Homo sapiens: one gene and its partners. The protein of the gene in region 2 interacts with the protein of the main gene of each other region in a pairwise test. Each region holds a gene or a part of one and is shown on either strand. Other genes may lie near its edges.

Region 1 (7,129 bases), on a different chromosome or scaffold from region 2:
CAACAGAGCAAGACTGTCTCTAATAAAATAAAATAAAATGGAATAGTACTTGCAGATTTGCATGTAACCCATGCACATCCTCCCATATACATTTCTGTTTTTTTGAAATGGAGACTCACTCTCTTTCCCAGGCTGGGGTGCAGTGGCATAATCTCAGCTCACTGCAACCTCCGCCTCCCAGGAGCAGGCAATTCTTCTGCCCCAGCCTCCCAAGTAGCTAGGACTACAGGCATGTGACACTACGCCTGGCTAATTTTTTTTTTTTTTTTTTTGAGACGGAGTTTTGCTCCTCTTTCCCAGGCTGGAGTGCAATGGTACAATCTTGGCTCACTGCAACCTCCGCCTCCCAGGTTCAAGCGATTCTCCTGCCTCAGCCTCCCGAGTAGCTAGGATTACAGGTGCCCGCCACCACAACCAGCTAATTTTTTGTATTTTTAGTAGAGATGGGGTTTCACTATGTTGGCCAGGCTGTTCTCAAACTCCTGACCTTAGACGATCCACCCACCTCAGCCTCCCAAAGTGCTGGAGTTACAGGAGTGAGCCACCGTGCCCAGCCCCATATACTTTAAATTATCTTTAGATTACTTATAATATCTAATACAATGTAAATGGTATGTTAACAGTTGTTATACTATATTGTTTAGGGAATCATGACAATAAAAAAGTCTGTATGTGCTCAGTTCAGATGCTTAAAAAATATATATTTTCAATCCTCAGTTGGTTGAATCCATGGATGTGGAAGCCATGGATATGGAGGGCCAACCATATATCACAAATCCAGGCCTCCTATTTTTCTGATGGACTAATTATAAACTGAGGGTTCCTATGACCTCCTTGAGTTTGATAATTTCTCAAGAAGAAGGAGAAAATCAAGTAATGGAGAAACAATATCCAAAGATCTAACACTGAAAATTTTTCAGAACTGATTAAACACTCCAAAATTCAAACTCAAGAAATCCAACAACTTTTCAAGCAAGAAGTCTACACGTAGGCACAACAGATTGAAACTAAATTACACCAGATACAAAGGGAGACTATAAAAAAATCCAAAGACCAATGACAGGTTACCTACAAAGGAGACAAAATTTTCTGACAGCTGACTGCTCCACAGAAATCATTATAGCCAATAAATATTGGAACAATAAATGTAAGGTCCTCAGCTCTTGGACAACACAGCCCAACCTTGAAGACCATTTAGGACTGAAAGGCATGGCTGGCAAAGGACCTACAGCCCTGTAATAGTGACAATTAAGACTACTTATCAATGAATTGTCAATCTCTTGTCTCAGGATGCAGGATGGCTTTAAAGGATACTGCTGGTGGGAAATTGAGTCATTGAAGACCCAGGGAACAGCAGAAGGTACACTCTATACTCATTTTATTACAGAGGCCAGTGAACACACTTGGTAGATGATACAAGTACTTAATCCTGGTTGGTTTACCCATTCTAAATTATTTATGTGAGATAGCTATCTATTTGGAAAAAAGTAAAGTGAAAGTCTTACCTCAATCCACACTCAAAAATAGTTTACTATATGACAGATCTATGGCAGGCAGATTTGATGGCTCAATGAACTCCACCCTCCCAGTGTTCACACCTTTATGTAGTTCCCACTTACAGGGAGCCAAAGGTCCGTGGGACGTGACCAACTCAGCATTCCACTGGAGGCTATATGATCAAACAGCAAACTGTTTATCATGAATGCAGGATGTGAGCAAACTCACCATTGCTCCTGCCGACAGAAGGTTTTCTGGAGGCAATCACTCCCTGGTGCTGAGGTTATCTACTGCAACATTTAGAGAATGTAGTCTTGCAAGCCTCCTCTGGACTGAGCAGCTGACCCCTACTTCCACTGCACCCCCCCAACTATCTCTTTTGCCTAATAAATGCAGAGGGCTGTGTAAAGCTCAGGGCCCTTGTCCACTAGAGGCAAGGTACCCCCTGACCCCTTCCTCCGAATATACTTTTGTCTCTTGTCTTTTATTCCTGTGTTCACCCCACTGTGTTCAGTCCCCCTAGGTCTGTGCGGGTTACAAGTGGCGCCCAAACAGGGACAGAATTGGGTGCTCTACACCCTCTCCTTGAGCAGGGACTGGCCTAGTGACTTACCTCTATTCAGAATATGGCAAAGGCGTTGGAATCTCACCTCCTTAATTAAGCTATACATGTTTAAAAAAATTATTCAATGAGAATTGTTAAAGCACAGTAAGGAAGACTTTATTCAGGGCCATTATGACAGGTATATAGACAAATGTAATGGGATTTTGCAGTGGTAGAGGGTGAATGGACTTAACTCCAAATATCAGCATAAGCAAGTGGGAATTTATAGCCAAGGAGCAGAGTATGGGTCAGTAATACAAAATTACCAAGAGGGCCAGGCACAATGGCTTATGCCTGTAATCCCAGCACTTTGGGAGGCAGGAGGATTGCTTGAGCCCAGGAGTTCAAGAGCAGCCTGGGCAACATGACAAGACCCCATCTCAATTAAAAAAAAAAAAAAAAGGAAAAAAGAAAAAAAGCAGAAAAGTAAAAGTAAAAAATAAACTCATAGTCAACCCACCCCCGCCACACACACACACACAAAACCTTTATGATCTTTTATCATTTTTCAGATTAAATACTTGATTCTCTCCTAACCCCCAATGGTGACAAATGCATTTTTTTCAAGTATAGCTATAAACTGATGGAATTTTATATAATTAATGTTCTTCAATCATTTGCAATCATTGGTCTTTGGATGTTCAAAGTGTAGCATCTTCGGCCAATGAAGAGTCCCTTCAAGTTGGCTGCTATGTTCTTTGAAATATGATTCTATCATGTAAAATATATATATGTGTATATCATAATGAATATATATATCTACAGATAGATTCATATATACTCACACTTTTATTAATACATATATAGACATAGATCCACAAACAGATACAGTGACAGGAAGTAAATATTACCAACCATTTACAGAAGTGGATTAGGAAGAAAATATGTGAAAAGAAAACTTTTTCTCTTTTCTTCAATTTTACTAAATATAGACAAGGTCTCACTAGATTGCCCAGGCTAGTCTCAAACTCCTGGGCTCAAGGAATCCTCCTGCCTAAGCCTCCCAAAGTAGGCATAAGCCACTGCACTCAGCCAGAAACTTTTTTTTTTTTTTTTTTTGAGATGGAGTCTCTCTGTCACCCAGGCTGGAGTGCAGTGGCACCATTTCGGCTCACTGCAATTTCCGTCTCCTGGGTTCACGCCATTCTCCTGCCTCAGCCTCCCGAGTAGCTGGGACTACAGGCACCTGCCACCACACCCGACCAATTTTTTGTATTTTTAGTAGAGACAGGGTTTCACGGTGTGAGCCAGGATGGTCTCGATCTCCAGACCTCGTGATCCACCCACCTCGGTCTCCCAAAGTGCTGGATTACAGCCATGAGCCACCGCGCCCAGCCGAAATTTATTTTTTGATATGTGTACTTTCTTACTTTACTGGGACACAATCACAGATGACCTATGTGGCTGATCTTAGGTCCACACCCTCCCAGAAGTCAGGTTTTAACTTTAGCCTCTAGTTCTGGAAGTTTCTGGCCTATCATAGATCACAGATCTATCATAGTTCGTATTTTTAGGCTGTCCAGTGGCCAAAGGACCCAAGCAAACAAAGACACTACCATTAGCAAGATATTCCAGAAGCCCAGAGCTCACCCTCCATTAGCTTGAACACAAAGGCCAAAACTCCCTTTGTTCAATTATTTACTATACAATAAGGACTTGGCATTTTCTACAAGGTGAAAGTCTAAAGGAAATCTGTAAACTCCAATCCAAGTCCTGTTCAGACAATATCACTTTCAACTCCCTGTCTCCAAATCTATATTCAAACACCAGTTCAGCTATCTGTTCATTGAGAACCATTTGAAAGTCCTGGAATCCTGCCATATTCCCAGGATGTCTAGGTTTTATTCCAAGTTAAATCCAGACTGCCACAAGGCTGAAATTAACTTGTGTTGGTCCCTGTGTTTACTGTTTGCTTAGTCTATTCCGTAACAGTATATAAGGAGTCCTTCAAGAAACAGCCACAGGAAACCTGCATCTGAATTTATGAGAAGGCTGCTATTCTGGACACCATCCACCACATCAACTCTAGGAAGAACCACTGAAGAAATTTCCTGAGACCAAAGTGCCATGAAATAATGGCAACCCCCAGGAAGTAATCTGTTTTATCTTCAAAAACAGGACATACCATGTAAATTATGATTTTCTTGTGACATTGGCTGTCAGAGATATTAGATGCAAGCTGACAGCTAATATAATCCACAGGATCCTCCAGCCATGCATGGTGTCACAAAATTCATAATTTAGTGTTAATGCTATGAACATTATATTCCTTATCCTACTATTTTGCATGATATTGAGTTTAAAAACTAAGCTTACTTCTCTCCAGATCCTGCTTTTTGAAATTTATACTTTTTATATTAGTGAAATTGATGTTTATAGGCTTCTACAAATCTATTATGGAACAAAGGAAAGAATAAAACAAACCAAAAGTCAGTTACCTGGGCCTGGATCATTTTCTTCTGTTCTTGGAAGACAGCATTCAACTGGGATGGTCTGTCTTTGTATCTTCTGGCCTTCTCTTCAGAAGTCTCAGTTTTCAATCAAGTGTGCCCCAAGAAATGGTGAACCCCAAATCCACTTCCTCCCTCTTCAGGTTATGTTTTTTGCTCCTGAGGAGTCAGAACCTGTGGGTTGAAGAGCAAATTCAATGTAAGTGGTACATTTTTTCCAGGCCCAGATACTGTCACTGCTGCTAGGCACTCATCTTAAAGCAATGCCCCCAATATAGTTAACTATATACCTTTGTTTGGAGCCCCAGCGGATTTTATACCTGTGGCCAATAATGTCTAGGATTCTTAATGTGGTGGAGGTATGCCTTTCCTCTGTGACGTTTCCGTGGAAGGACTGTGAAGGCAGGTAGGAAATGAGACCCACCATAGCACCAGCCTCAGGAGATGGTGAACTCTTAGGCAGATTAGTTTTAGAAAAGAGACAATCAGCAAGGAGAGGACCTGGTCTTTGTTTTCCTTTAAATCATGTGTGCTCCCACACCTCTTCAAAAGTCTTTGTACATACACCCTGTGAAGACATGTACTTCAGTTTGAAAGCCAATGTACTGGGCAAATCATAAGCATTGTCATAAAAACAGTACTGACAATATTTTAGGAGGTTTTAAATACATAAAAAGCTAAAATACACAATAATTTACTGGATAATTAGGTGGTGAATAAAGTTGACGTGCTCTAAGGTTTCTGTAGAATGGAAAAGTGCCAATTAGCAGAAGAATATGACAAAGGTTGCACACTACATGTAATCTCTAGTTACAATTAACACTAGTAAGTCCAGGCACAGTGGCTCACGCCTGTAATCCCAGCACTTTGGGATGCCGAGGCGGGTGGATCACCTGACATCAGGAGTCCGAGACCGGCCTAGCCAACATGGTGAAACCCCATCTCTATAAAAATACAGTTATTCCAGAAGCTGAGGCAGAAGAATTGCTTGAATCCGGGAGATGGAGGTTGCAGTGAGACAAGCCTGTGCCATTGTACTCCAGTCTGGTCAAAAAGAGCGAAACCTCGTCTTAAAAAAAAAAAAAAAAAAAAAAACTAGTAATTGTTTTAAAGTACGTAAGTTCCATGCCAACAAAAGGGGGAAATGTAATAACAAGAAATTCATCCAAAAGAAGAGAATCAAAAACAGAGCAAAAAGAGCAAATACAATGCATTTAGATAGCTGTTTTAAAATAAAATGTACTAAGAAAATTACATTACATTAAGTATTTTATGCTAAGTAAAAACAGAGCATGGATCCCAGTTAATTACATTAAATATAAATGCCTCAAAACTGTCAGAATGGATTAAAAATTAAAATCCAATAACATCTGGGGTTTATTTTATTTTATTTTAATTTTTGAGATGGAGTCTCACTCTGTCGCCCAGGCTGGAGTGCAATGGTGTGATCTCGGCCTCCCGGGTTCAAGCAATTCTCTGCCTTAGCCTCCCGAGTAGCTGAGTTTACAGGCACCTGCTGCAGGGAGCCGAAGGCTCGTGGCCCGTGGGACGTGACCAACTCAGCATTCCACTGGAGGCTACAGATCAAACAGCAAACTGTTTATCATGAATGCAGGATGTCAGCAAACTCATGACTGCTCCGGCTGATGAAGGTTTGCTGGAGGCAATCACTCCCTGGCGCCGTTATCTACTGCGACATCTAGAGAATGCAGTCTTGCAAGACTACTCTGGACCCCTGGCGCCGTTATCTACTGCGACATCTAGAGAATGCAGTCTTGCAAGACTACTCTGGACCCCTGGCGCCGTTATCTACTGCGACATCTAGAGAATGCAGTCTTGCAAGACTACTCTGGACCGAGCAGCTGACCCCTTCTTCCACCTCCCCTTCTCACTGTCTCTTTTGCCTAATAAATATGAAGGGCTGTGTAAAGCTCAGGGCCCTTGTCCCCTAGAGGCAAAGCGCCCCCGATCCCTTCTTCCAAATACACTCTTTTGTCTCATCTTTATTCCCGTGTTCACCCCACTTTGTTTAGTCCACCTAGGTCCGTGCAGGTTACAAATGGCAACCAGAACAGGGACTCCAAGCACGCCCAACTAGCAGCATCCAAACATGGGACTTCAAGGACGTGAATGAAGAAGGTCTGCTGGAGCAGAGGAACTGAAATTGACAAGGCGAAAGGGGACCCTGGGAAGAGTCTGCCGGCAGCAGATATAAGGTCAGTGCCCTAAAGAGGTACTGGGAGCAGTGCTTTAAAGAAGTACTGGGAAGTTTTCTGACTCAGGGTAACAAGGGAAAGAATTTGTCTATTGAAGAAAAACATTATGTGCAGTTGCTTAAAGTTCTGTTGAGACAGTCTGCAGCTCAGGTTAATTCGCAGACACTAACCTCCTGCAGAAGCCACAAAAGGTTATTACACATAACCCATCGTTTCCACAGGCAGGCACTCTTGATGTGGAAAATTGGGATACAGCAGGAGAAGGATTAAAACAGGCTCATCAAAAAGGTCTTAAAGTCGATTCTTCTGTTTTCTCCACTTGGAGTTTAGTTCGTACTGTACTTCTGCCATTATCTCATTAT
Region 2 (3,252 bases):
CTTTCATTTACTCAATTCCCTCAGGCTTTAAAAGTTATCCCACAGACTGGGGTCTGGGCCTAAGAAAAACACCCAAACTTCCCAAATAAACTGTATTCCTTATTGCGTGTCAGGTTTCATCCTTAAGCTGAGCTTGGGCCCCAAGAGGGTAAATGGGAGAGCTGCTGATTCGGGTTTCTGGGAGATGGTTAGCCCTGAGCACTCTACATGTTTTCCCATTTTCCTTCACAGCAAGGCTGGAGCTCACAAACCAGACTGTGAACAGAAGCTCTGGGTACTAAAGGAAGAATACTGGTGGACTCTCTGTAAGGCTGTTTCTCAGGGCAGCCTTTTCCCTTCCCAAGATTTTCTTTCTGTATCATTGTCATCAAGCAAGAGAGGCTGTACCTGCAGCACAGCCCTAATTACCCAGCGACTGGTACTCACCTCCTTCAGAGTACAGCACACAAGTTCCTGCCTGCGACAGTTCTCAGCCTTGGTTTTGAAACAATCAGGATGCTAAAAAATTCTCAAAGCAATTCATTTTTATTTTTTAAAAAACACCCCAAAATAAAAAACCACTGACTCATCCATGCCAAACTGCACTTTCCAGAGGAAGCATGTCAGCAGACTCAAACGGACAATGGACAGAATCCCATGACACCAAAGTCATTCAAACCTGATGCTTCAGAGGCTGACATTCTGAGCTGAAATAGCCACAGGTCACCACTTGGCCTGATGTGGGACTCTCCTTTCTTTTTAGTCTATTCATGTGGTGGCAGAAGATGTGAGACTCTAGTCTCCAGTCAGGGAGGCTTCTCCTGTTATAGAAAAATATTAGAGTCTAGGCTTGACTTAGCGATGGGTGGGCTATATTAAGAATCATACCCTGCTTCTTCAAAGTCTAGACGATGCATTTGTAGTTCTGGCTTCTCTCAGGGGTTGTGGATCTCAGGGACCAGAGAGAGCTTTTAGTCCTTTTATGGATGGGTTCACTGTGACTCTAAAATCTTTTCTCATTGAAATTAGCCAGCATAATTTGACAGACACTCAGAAAAACACCCTAATCATATTAGGCTGAAGGCCAGGTCTGGAAGTAAATTCTTTAAAAGTTTGGGCTTCAGGAAGGATAGGTTGAAGGTGAAAATGGAGTATGTTAAAATGGGGATATTAAAAATATATTTAAAACTAGGAGGCTAATCCCTGGCAGAAGAGAACTCTTCTTTGATTTGCCAATCCCTGGCCTTTTCTTACTCCTTATTTGTACTGACTCCAGGTTTTCCATAGCATGAATGCCTGCCGCTGCTCTACGCATAGTAAGTTATAGCGTTCTACAGATTGGTCATCTAGACCGAAGACACGGAGGAAAACATGTTCTGGCAATTCTACCTGGCTCAAGGTGTAAGTATGTATTTTTAATTCTCAGAGGAGAAAAAGCATTACAGAGGCAGTCTAGAACAATCATTGTCACCTTTCCAACTTCCGTGTTGATGACATCAATAACAGATGGAAAAGAAATAATTAAAAATAAAGGAGAAAGAGTTTTCCATGATTCACCAAAGTAGTAGGAGTATTCTGTCAGGAAAGCTTAGAACCATTTATCAGCTGCTACCTAAAATTTAGCATTTAACTTTAATTATGCCTAGTTACGAATTAAGCAAAACAGAAAGTGTTTTAACATGACCAGCTGCTACAGATTGAAATAGTTTCACAGTAGAAATTTTTATTTTTTTATTGTTCTTTTTTGATTATGCAATAAGCCCCCTTCTTAACAGATTGTCACAAAAACTAAATTGTAATGACATTAGCCAGCTAACCTGTCTGCCCCAACTCCCTTAAACACCAAGGAATAAAGCATACTAATATGGTCATAAGTCAAACTTCCTCTGGGAAAGAAGATCCAGGCTAGACTCTTTCAGAGCCCCTGTGGGGCAGAAGCAGAATCCTTACATCATAGTTAGGTTTTGGTGGTATTCATTTTTTTTTCATTATTATCAAGGTAACTGTATCTAACACTGGACCAGAAGAAAATGTCCTTAATCCTTATCTCATTACCCTTTCCCAAAAAGAAGACATCAGAGATTGTGTGGGTCAACTTAAAAGAAGAGGCGAGCATGCTCCTGGTTCATGGAAGGAAATGAGCTTCCATCATCTGCACATGATCAGCGGGCATCAAAATCTGTTAATTCAGAACAATATGAAGACACACTCCCATTTGAAGCTTACTTTCTAATCTAAGGAGAAATCATGATAGCACATGATGAAAGAGTACATCAATAACTCTGAGGGTAGATGGTAGGATAGAATACTAGAAGATGAGCAGGTATTAGGTGGATTAGCCAATTTTCCATATTGAAAGAAAAAATGAGGCTGGGCACGGTCGCTCACACCTATAATCCCAGCACTTTGAGAGGGTAAGGCACATGGATCACTTGAGCCCAGGAGTTCAAGACCAGCCCGAGCAACATGGTGAAACCCCCTCTCTACAGATATACAAAAAATTAGCCAGGCATGGTAGCACGTGACTGTAGTCCCAGTTACTCTGGAGGTTGAGATGGGAGAATCACCTGAGCCTGGGAGGTTGAGGCTGCAGACAACACTGCGCCACTTCACTCCAGCCTGGACGACAGAGCGAGACTCTGTCTCAAAAAGAAAAAATAAAGAAAAAGAAAAAATGACTTGGGGAATGAAATAAAAATTCTAACCCAACTCTCACCGTGTCAGAAACAACTTGGAAATTAAAATTTGTCAATTTAGAACTCAGTAAGTCACCTAACCTAACCAGTTTGACTGAAATGACTAGAAGAAAAATGGCTAAAGAACAATCCAGTAACTGAGGAAGAGACAGTCTGAATTTCTGTACTAACTCTGATCCAATTCAGTCACTCATTGCTATGGCTGGGCAGGGATCCAAGTGAAACTTTTAACAGTGGCCAATAAGGTGGCATAGAGTTACTGCCTCTAAAAACCACAACTTGTCCCTAAGCTTGAAACCCAACCATAAACTTCCTCAAATCCATGTGGACGAGCACCATGTTTTTAAGCAGCCCACTCTCCTCAAACTTGAATTGGCCTGCAGAAGACAGGTATGCCAACTTCAATGACTCTGCTCTGCATCACTCTCTCGGTTGCCAAATTGAGGCAGAAACATCCATTTGCCTTCCTGTAGCTTTCTAAAATCTGTCTACAGTGTAATGAGTTGTCTATACACTTTCCCTTAGCCCAGTTTCAGTAACCTTGTAGTCCATTCGATACACAGAAATAGAGCACGCA
Region 3 (7,129 bases), on a different chromosome or scaffold from region 2:
ATTATCCTCCACATAGCAACACAAAATACTCATATAAGCAAAAATACTCACTTGTAAAATGCAAAATGTTAAAAATGTATGCAATTGTTTTTGTATTATTTTTACTCAGACATTCCCTGTGATCTATTAAGTGACAATGTAAAGTATAAACAGTTTTTGTGCTACACTTGATCCATGGCAATATAAATAATTCAATTTATGCTGGAATTGGGAAATTTACTTTTTAACAAACATCTTCAAACACAATGTAATATAAAAATAGATTTTTAAATATACATTTTGATTTTTAATTAAATAGTTTTGTTTCTTTCTGCTTCATTTCACAGAGTCACTTAATAAAATCCATGGTACTTACAGAAAAATTCCTGATGTCATATGCATGTGTTTCACTATAAGGCAGTTATGAGGTTGATAAAATTTCTTCTACAAATTTTTTCATTAGACATACGCAAATCAATAAACGTAATCCAGCATATAAACAGAACCAACAATAAAAACCATATGATTTTCTCAATAGATGCAGAAAAGGCCTTTGACAAAATTCAACAACGCTTCATGCTAAAAACTCTCAATAAATTAGGTATTGATGGGACGTATCTCAAAATAATAAGAGCTATCTATGACAAACCCACAGTCAATATCATACTGAATGGGCAAAAACTGGAAGCATTCCCTTTGAAAACTGGCTCAAGACAGGGATGCCCTCTCTCACCACTCCTATTCAACATAGTGTTGGAAGTTCTGGCCAGGGCAATCAGGCAGGAGAAGGAAATAAAGAGTATTCAATTAGGAAAAGAGGAAGTCAAATTGTCCCTGTTTGCAGATGACATGATTGTATATCAGAAAACCCCATCATCTCAGCCCAAAATCTCCTTAAGCTGATAAGCAACTTCAGCAAAGTCTCAGCATACAAAATCAATGTGCAAAAATCACAAGCATTCTTATACACCAATAACAGACAAACACAGAGTCAAATCATGAGTGAACTCCCATTCACAATTGCTTCAAAGAGAATAAAATACCTAGGAATCCACCTTACAAGGGACGTGAAGGACCTCTTTAAGGAGAACTACAAACCACTGCTCAATGAAATTAAAGAGGATACAAACAAATGGAAGAACATTCCATGCTCATGGGTAGGAAGAATCAATATTGTGAAAATGGCCATACTGCCCAAGGTAATTTATAGATTCAATGCTATCCCCACCAAGCTACCAATGACTTTCTTCACAGAATTGGAAAAAAACTACTTTAAAGTTCATATGGAACCAAAAAAGAGCCTGCATTGCCAAGTCAATCCTAAGCCAAAAGAACAAAGCTGGAGGCATCACGCTATCTGACTTCAAACTATATTACAAGGCTACAGTAACCAAAACAGCATGGTACTGGTACCAAAACAGAGATATAGACCAATGGAACAGAACAGAGCCCTCAGAAATAATGCCGCATATCTACAACTCTCTGATCTTTGACAAACCTGAGAAAAACAAGCAATGGGGAAAGGATTCCCTATTTAATAAATGGTGCTGGGAAAACTGGCTAGCCATATGTAGAAAGCTGAAACTGGATCTCTTCCTTATACCTTATATAAAAATTAATTCAAGATGGATTAAAGACTTAAATGTTAGACCTAAAACCATAAAAACCCTAGAAGAAAACCTAGGCAATACCATTCAGGACATAGGCAGGGGCAAGGACTTCATGTCTAAAACACCAAAAGCAATGGCAACAAAATCCAAAATTGACAAATGGGATCTAATTAAACTAAAGAGCTTCTGCACAGCAAAAGAAACTACCATCAGAGTGAATAGGCAACCTACAGAATGGGAGAAAATTTTTGCAGTCTATCCATCTGACAAAGGGCTAATATCCAGAATCTACAGTGAACTCAAACAAATTTACAAGAAAAAAACAAACAACCCCATTAAAAAGTGGGCAAAGGATATGAACAGACACTTCTCAAAAGATGACATTTATGAAACCAAAAGACACATGAAAAAATGCTCATCATCACTGGCCATCAGAGAAGTGCAAATCAAAACCACAATGAGATACCATCTCACACCAGTTAGAATGGCAACCATTAAAAAGTCAGGAAACAACAGGCGCTGGAGAGGATGTGGAGAAACAGGAACACTTTTACACTGTTGGTGGGACTGTAAACTAGTTCAACCATTGTGGAAGTCAGTGTGGCAATTCCTCAGGGATCTAGAACTAGAAATACCATTTGGCCCAGCCATCCAATTACTGGGTATATACCCAAAGGATTATAAGTCATGCTTCTATAAAGACACATGCCCACATATGTTTATTGTGGCACTATTCACAATAGCAAGGACTTGGAACCAAGCCAAATGTCCAACAATGATAGACTGGATTAAGAAAATGTGGCACATATACACCATGGAATACTATGCAGCCACAAAAAAGGATGAGTTCATGTCCTTTGTAGGGACATGGGTGAAGCTGGAAACCGTCATTCTCAGCAAATTATCACAAGGACAAAATACCAAACACCGCATGTTCTCACTCATAGGTGGGACCTGAACAATGAGAACACATGGACACAGGAAGGGGAACATCACACACCTGGGCCTGTTGTGCAGTGGGAGGAGGGGGGAGGGATAGCATTAGCAGATATACCTAATGTTAAATGACAAGTTAATGGGTGTAGCACACCAGCATAGCACATGTATACATATGTAACTAACCTGCACGTTGAGCACGTGTACCCCGAAATTTAAAGTACAATTAAAAAAAGAAGAAAATTCAACATAGACAAAATCTCTCTTTGCACTATAAAGGTTTATTTTTTTCTTCTGTAACATATCTGTGTTTGGGTATATCCAATGATATATCCAAAGTATAGCAAGTATTTAGGCTCAAACTGCCATGGTTTTGACAGTGATTTTTTTTTTAAAGTAAGCCAAAATAAATAAAAATGGCATAAAACCTCATAAGGATTCATGTAACGATTACATGGAGAAATTATTTCCCCAGGTAGAGCAAGCCATCTAATTATTTCAAATATTGAAACAAATCTAGCCATTCATATAAATCACCCACTCATTAGCCTAATGGATCTTTGAAAGTATATCAATGGGGGTTGGGCGCAGTGGCTCACACCTGTAATCCCAGCCCTTTGGGAGACCGAAGCAGGTGGATCACGAGGTCAGGAGATCAAGACCATCCTGGCTAACACGGTGAAACCCCATATCTACTAAAAATACAAAAACATTAACCGGGCGTGGATGGCGGGCACCTGTAGTCCCAGCTACTCAGGAGGCTGAGGCAGGAGAATGGCGTGAACCCGGGAGGCGGAGATTGCAGTGAGCTGAGATCACGCCACTGCACTCCAGCCTGGACGACAGAGCGAGACTCCGTCTCAAAAAAAAATAATAAATAAGTGAAAAAATAAAAGTACATCAATGGGATGCAATTGAGTTAATATTCAATAACTTATCAAAGAAGGAAACTTTTATTGTTTCTTCCAGACCACTCAAAACAGTCAACAATATATATTAAACTTAACACAAATTTTAACTTTTTTAAAAATATCTCAATATGAAGTCCTTTTAGAGTTGACAAAGATGTCAGTAAGACGTAATAATAAAAGCAATTTTTATTAATTATCTATGATGATATGGACATTGTACTATGTATGTCCCTATGCAAGTCTTTAACAATGTAAATTCAGCAATTATTATATTACTAAGTTTTCTATATAAGATAATTTACTTTTATTAAAGGAAATATAACAAATACTTACTAGAGACAGAAGAGAGCTGAGAATAGAATGGAGTAAGTAATAATAAAGTCACTAAACTAAGGCAGTTGTATGTTTGTTGTCATAATATATAGCCAGATTATAGCTAGGAGAGATTTTTAGAAATTAATACTGAACCCTGGAGCTTCAAGGTAGATGTTTCCATTGAACTGTAAAATAGGATTAATTCAACGAAAATGCTAAAATTATGGGGAAGCTAGCAGTGGAAGTATTGTTGGTTGCTTCACCTTGTAACAGTATTAATACACAGACTTACTTATATTGCATTTCTTTCATACAAAGTATGAAAATACTATAAAATAGTATTTTAATAGTACTATAGTACGTTAATAGTATTTAAATAGTATTTAAATTTAATGGTATTTTAACAGTACCATAAAATACTATAAAATAGTATAGTATAAAATACTATAAAATGCAATACAAATAGCCTTTTAACTTATTTACATTGCAATACTCACAAATGCAAAGTATTATTTTTGCTGAATTTGATGCATTTCCTCTTTATTATACATTGTTGACTGTGAACACTTAAGAGTTAACTTTTATTATTGTTATTCTTTATGAGGTGCTTAATTTCTAGCTGAGAAGTAAAAGTTCAACAGCATGATACTTACTCTTAACTACAATGATGTATTAATATAAGAAGTATAAACTCCTAAACTTAATAAATTCTAATAGGATTTCTATGTTGTCAAGTTTAGAGTAAATAATTCAATATATTCAGCAATTCTTTGGGAGTAAAGATATGCGGTATGAAGAAAACAAATTACTATGTAAAAATAAACTATGTCTAAAGTATAAAATAAATATAAAATAGCAGATGTTTACACATAAAGGGAGGATCAGTGGAAGTTATTTTTAAAAAGTGAAAATATTTTCCATTGTATTTATTGATATTATTCTTCAAATAAATTCTTTTCAAATAAAATATTTATTTCATTCTGCAAAAAAACCTTAAAATACAACTTGCAAAATACTCTATATTAATGTCAATCATTTCATATTTTTCAGTTAATTTGAATTGAGTAAAATATCTTGAAAATTAAAAACACCTCATAATGTCACTAGCTCAAAATGACCAATATGTTTGCAATAGCATTTACTAAAATCTACATAATGCTTATCACCTGCCAGACACTACACACTTTAAATACATAACTTATCTAATATTCTTAAGGTGCCATTACTACCCCAGGTTAGTTATCTTGTACATATAGCTAGCACTAACTGACATACTCAGGAATTAAAACTAGGTGGTCTACTTAGGAGACTGTACCTTTAACCATTGCTCTACCCCACCTTCTGAGGAAAATGATTCTGCCAGGGTCTGTATGTATTTGAAAGTCATTAATTAAACTATAATCAATCAGAGATGTCAAATGTGAATATGCTTTTCTCATTATGAAAGTGAATTTGTGAGTTACAAGCAATGAAAAGGAAAGTGAGCATAATAAACATGCCAAAAGATTAAACAGTGTAAATGTTAAGAATAGGGACAGTACAGATAAAAAGCAAATAATCATATTTAACATTCGAGGTCATACCATTTAAATTATCTACATGTACCAGAAAACTACAGTGGTATCACTTATAAATTATGCCCCAAGAGAACCGTCTCATTAACCTTGTTCAAAACATTAATGGTACTTTATTTCTAAAATAATAAACTGATCAAAATGTTTAAACAATGTTTTGTTTATTAAACAACACTATTCATATACCTCACATTTCTACAGAAAAAAAGTCAATCTTTATTTTCAGAAAATTTGACATAATTTGTTTTTACCTTTTCAGATACAAAGGAGTATAGAGATCTGACTCTATTATTCTAAGCCTGAAGTCAGTCAAGAAGAAAGTATGACTCTTAATAAATGTGGATCTACTTTCCTTTGAAGGTATCTTTGAAAGGAGCAGTAGGAGGGAGAGCAATGTAGATCTTCTCTAAAACTGAATTTCAAAGGATTTATTTGGCCCATCTTCCACATGGGAAGAATTAGAATTTTTTTTTTTTTTTGCCTTTTATTTCCCATTGTGAGACCCTAAATGGGAAAATAAGTCCAGGTTATGTAGGTCTCTATGTGGTATTAGATGCAATAGCAGCCATAGTGCAAGGAATGTAGGCCACAAAGGCCTGTGTAACTGGCTGCTGTGAACTTTAGTGGCAAACCTTAAAAAAGGGAAAAGAAAAAGGAAAGAAGACCTTTAGCACTTCCATATAGATCTCAACATCACTCAAAAAACTTTCTTCAACTGGGTCTGATGCATTAACGAGATCATAGAATTACTGCTAATTTAGAATTACATACTTTGGTGAGGAAAGTTTATTATTACAAATAAAATGCCATAGTTTATAAAAAAGAATTGGATGTGACAATAAGCCATATTTTAATATGTGGTTTATTATTGTGTGGATTAAAAGCAGAAAGCTTAAATTAAAAAGATAATTCCTTGAATTTCATTAAACAGTTTTAAAAATTGTTTTGCAGGTATTTAAACAGTGTAGAAACACTGTGAGATATATACATATATATATATATATATATAATGTCTTAAAATCCCAACATTTTAAAAGGAGCTCACCTCCTTTTAAAATTATGACAGATGAAAATTATGATAACTGTAATGTAAAATTAGGCAAACAAGTAAATAAAATTAAGTAAATAATGCAATTTTACCTGGTGCACTTATTAACAATATTCTTATTATTCAAATCTTACCTTTTCTTTATAAAATCTTCCTTAAACTATGATAATTCTTGTAGTTTCTGTATAATACCCAATGTCTGAATGAATATTCAAAAATCAGTCTCATTAATGTTTTAAAAACGCAACTGCTAAACAAACCATGTTTAAGTTTTTCAGCTATGCTAGCTTTTGCATCTCTTGAAACATAACTACTGGGCCAAGAGTTTCTAAATGATTTTCCAGTAAATGACATCTGTATTGAAACCTAAGACACACAGGCACTATAGTAAAGGTTCTGAAAAATTTCATTTTTTATAATCATAAATAAAATTAATCTATGATTTGACGAGGAAAAGAATTATTAGAATAGCAACATGAATCATATTTAAAAGAATATACAAGAGAATTAATTATTCCACAAAAGGTAAAAGAAATATTTTGTTTTGTTTTGTTTTTGGTCAGCAGTGGTTCAGGAGATGAACCAACTGTGGGCTCTCTGGCTATCATTATACAAATTTATCATCAATGAACCAGTGAAGCACGAAACTGAGGGTTAATATAGAATGAAAAGAGACTTTCCCCTCAATATATCACTTTAGAAGCATATATTCTGAGTTCTAAAAGCAATAATCTTCCACATAAAATTCAATACAAG

What was found.
Region 1: the proteins of DYRK3 (region 2) and ZNF350 interact in a two-hybrid assay, tested with the Homo sapiens proteins (one study listed by BioGRID).
Region 3: the proteins of DYRK3 (region 2) and MAGI2 interact in a two-hybrid assay, tested with the Homo sapiens proteins (one study listed by BioGRID).

The regions. Positions count from the first base shown.
Region 1 is NC_000019.10:51,969,807-51,976,935, forward strand, and holds part of ZNF350 (zinc finger protein 350), read right to left. Parts: intron 6,768-7,129; exon of another isoform or gene 6,585-6,767; intron 5,120-6,584; exon of another isoform or gene 4,872-5,119; intron 4,726-4,871; 5' UTR 4,555-4,725; coding exon 4,540-4,554; intron 1-4,539. UniProt on the Homo sapiens protein: Transcriptional repressor. Binds to a specific sequence, 5'-GGGxxxCAGxxxTTT-3', within GADD45 intron 3.
Region 2 is NC_000001.11:206,652,413-206,655,664, reverse strand, and holds the end of DYRK3 (dual specificity tyrosine-phosphorylation-regulated kinase 3), read right to left. Parts: 3' UTR 507-3,252; downstream 1-506. UniProt on the Homo sapiens protein: Dual-specificity protein kinase that promotes disassembly of several types of membraneless organelles during mitosis, such as stress granules, nuclear speckles and pericentriolar material.
Region 3 is NC_000007.14:79,443,565-79,450,693, forward strand, and holds part of MAGI2 (membrane-associated guanylate kinase, WW and PDZ domain-containing protein 2), read right to left. Parts: intron 1-7,129. UniProt on the Homo sapiens protein: Seems to act as a scaffold molecule at synaptic junctions by assembling neurotransmitter receptors and cell adhesion proteins. Plays a role in nerve growth factor (NGF)-induced recruitment of RAPGEF2 to late endosomes and neurite outgrowth.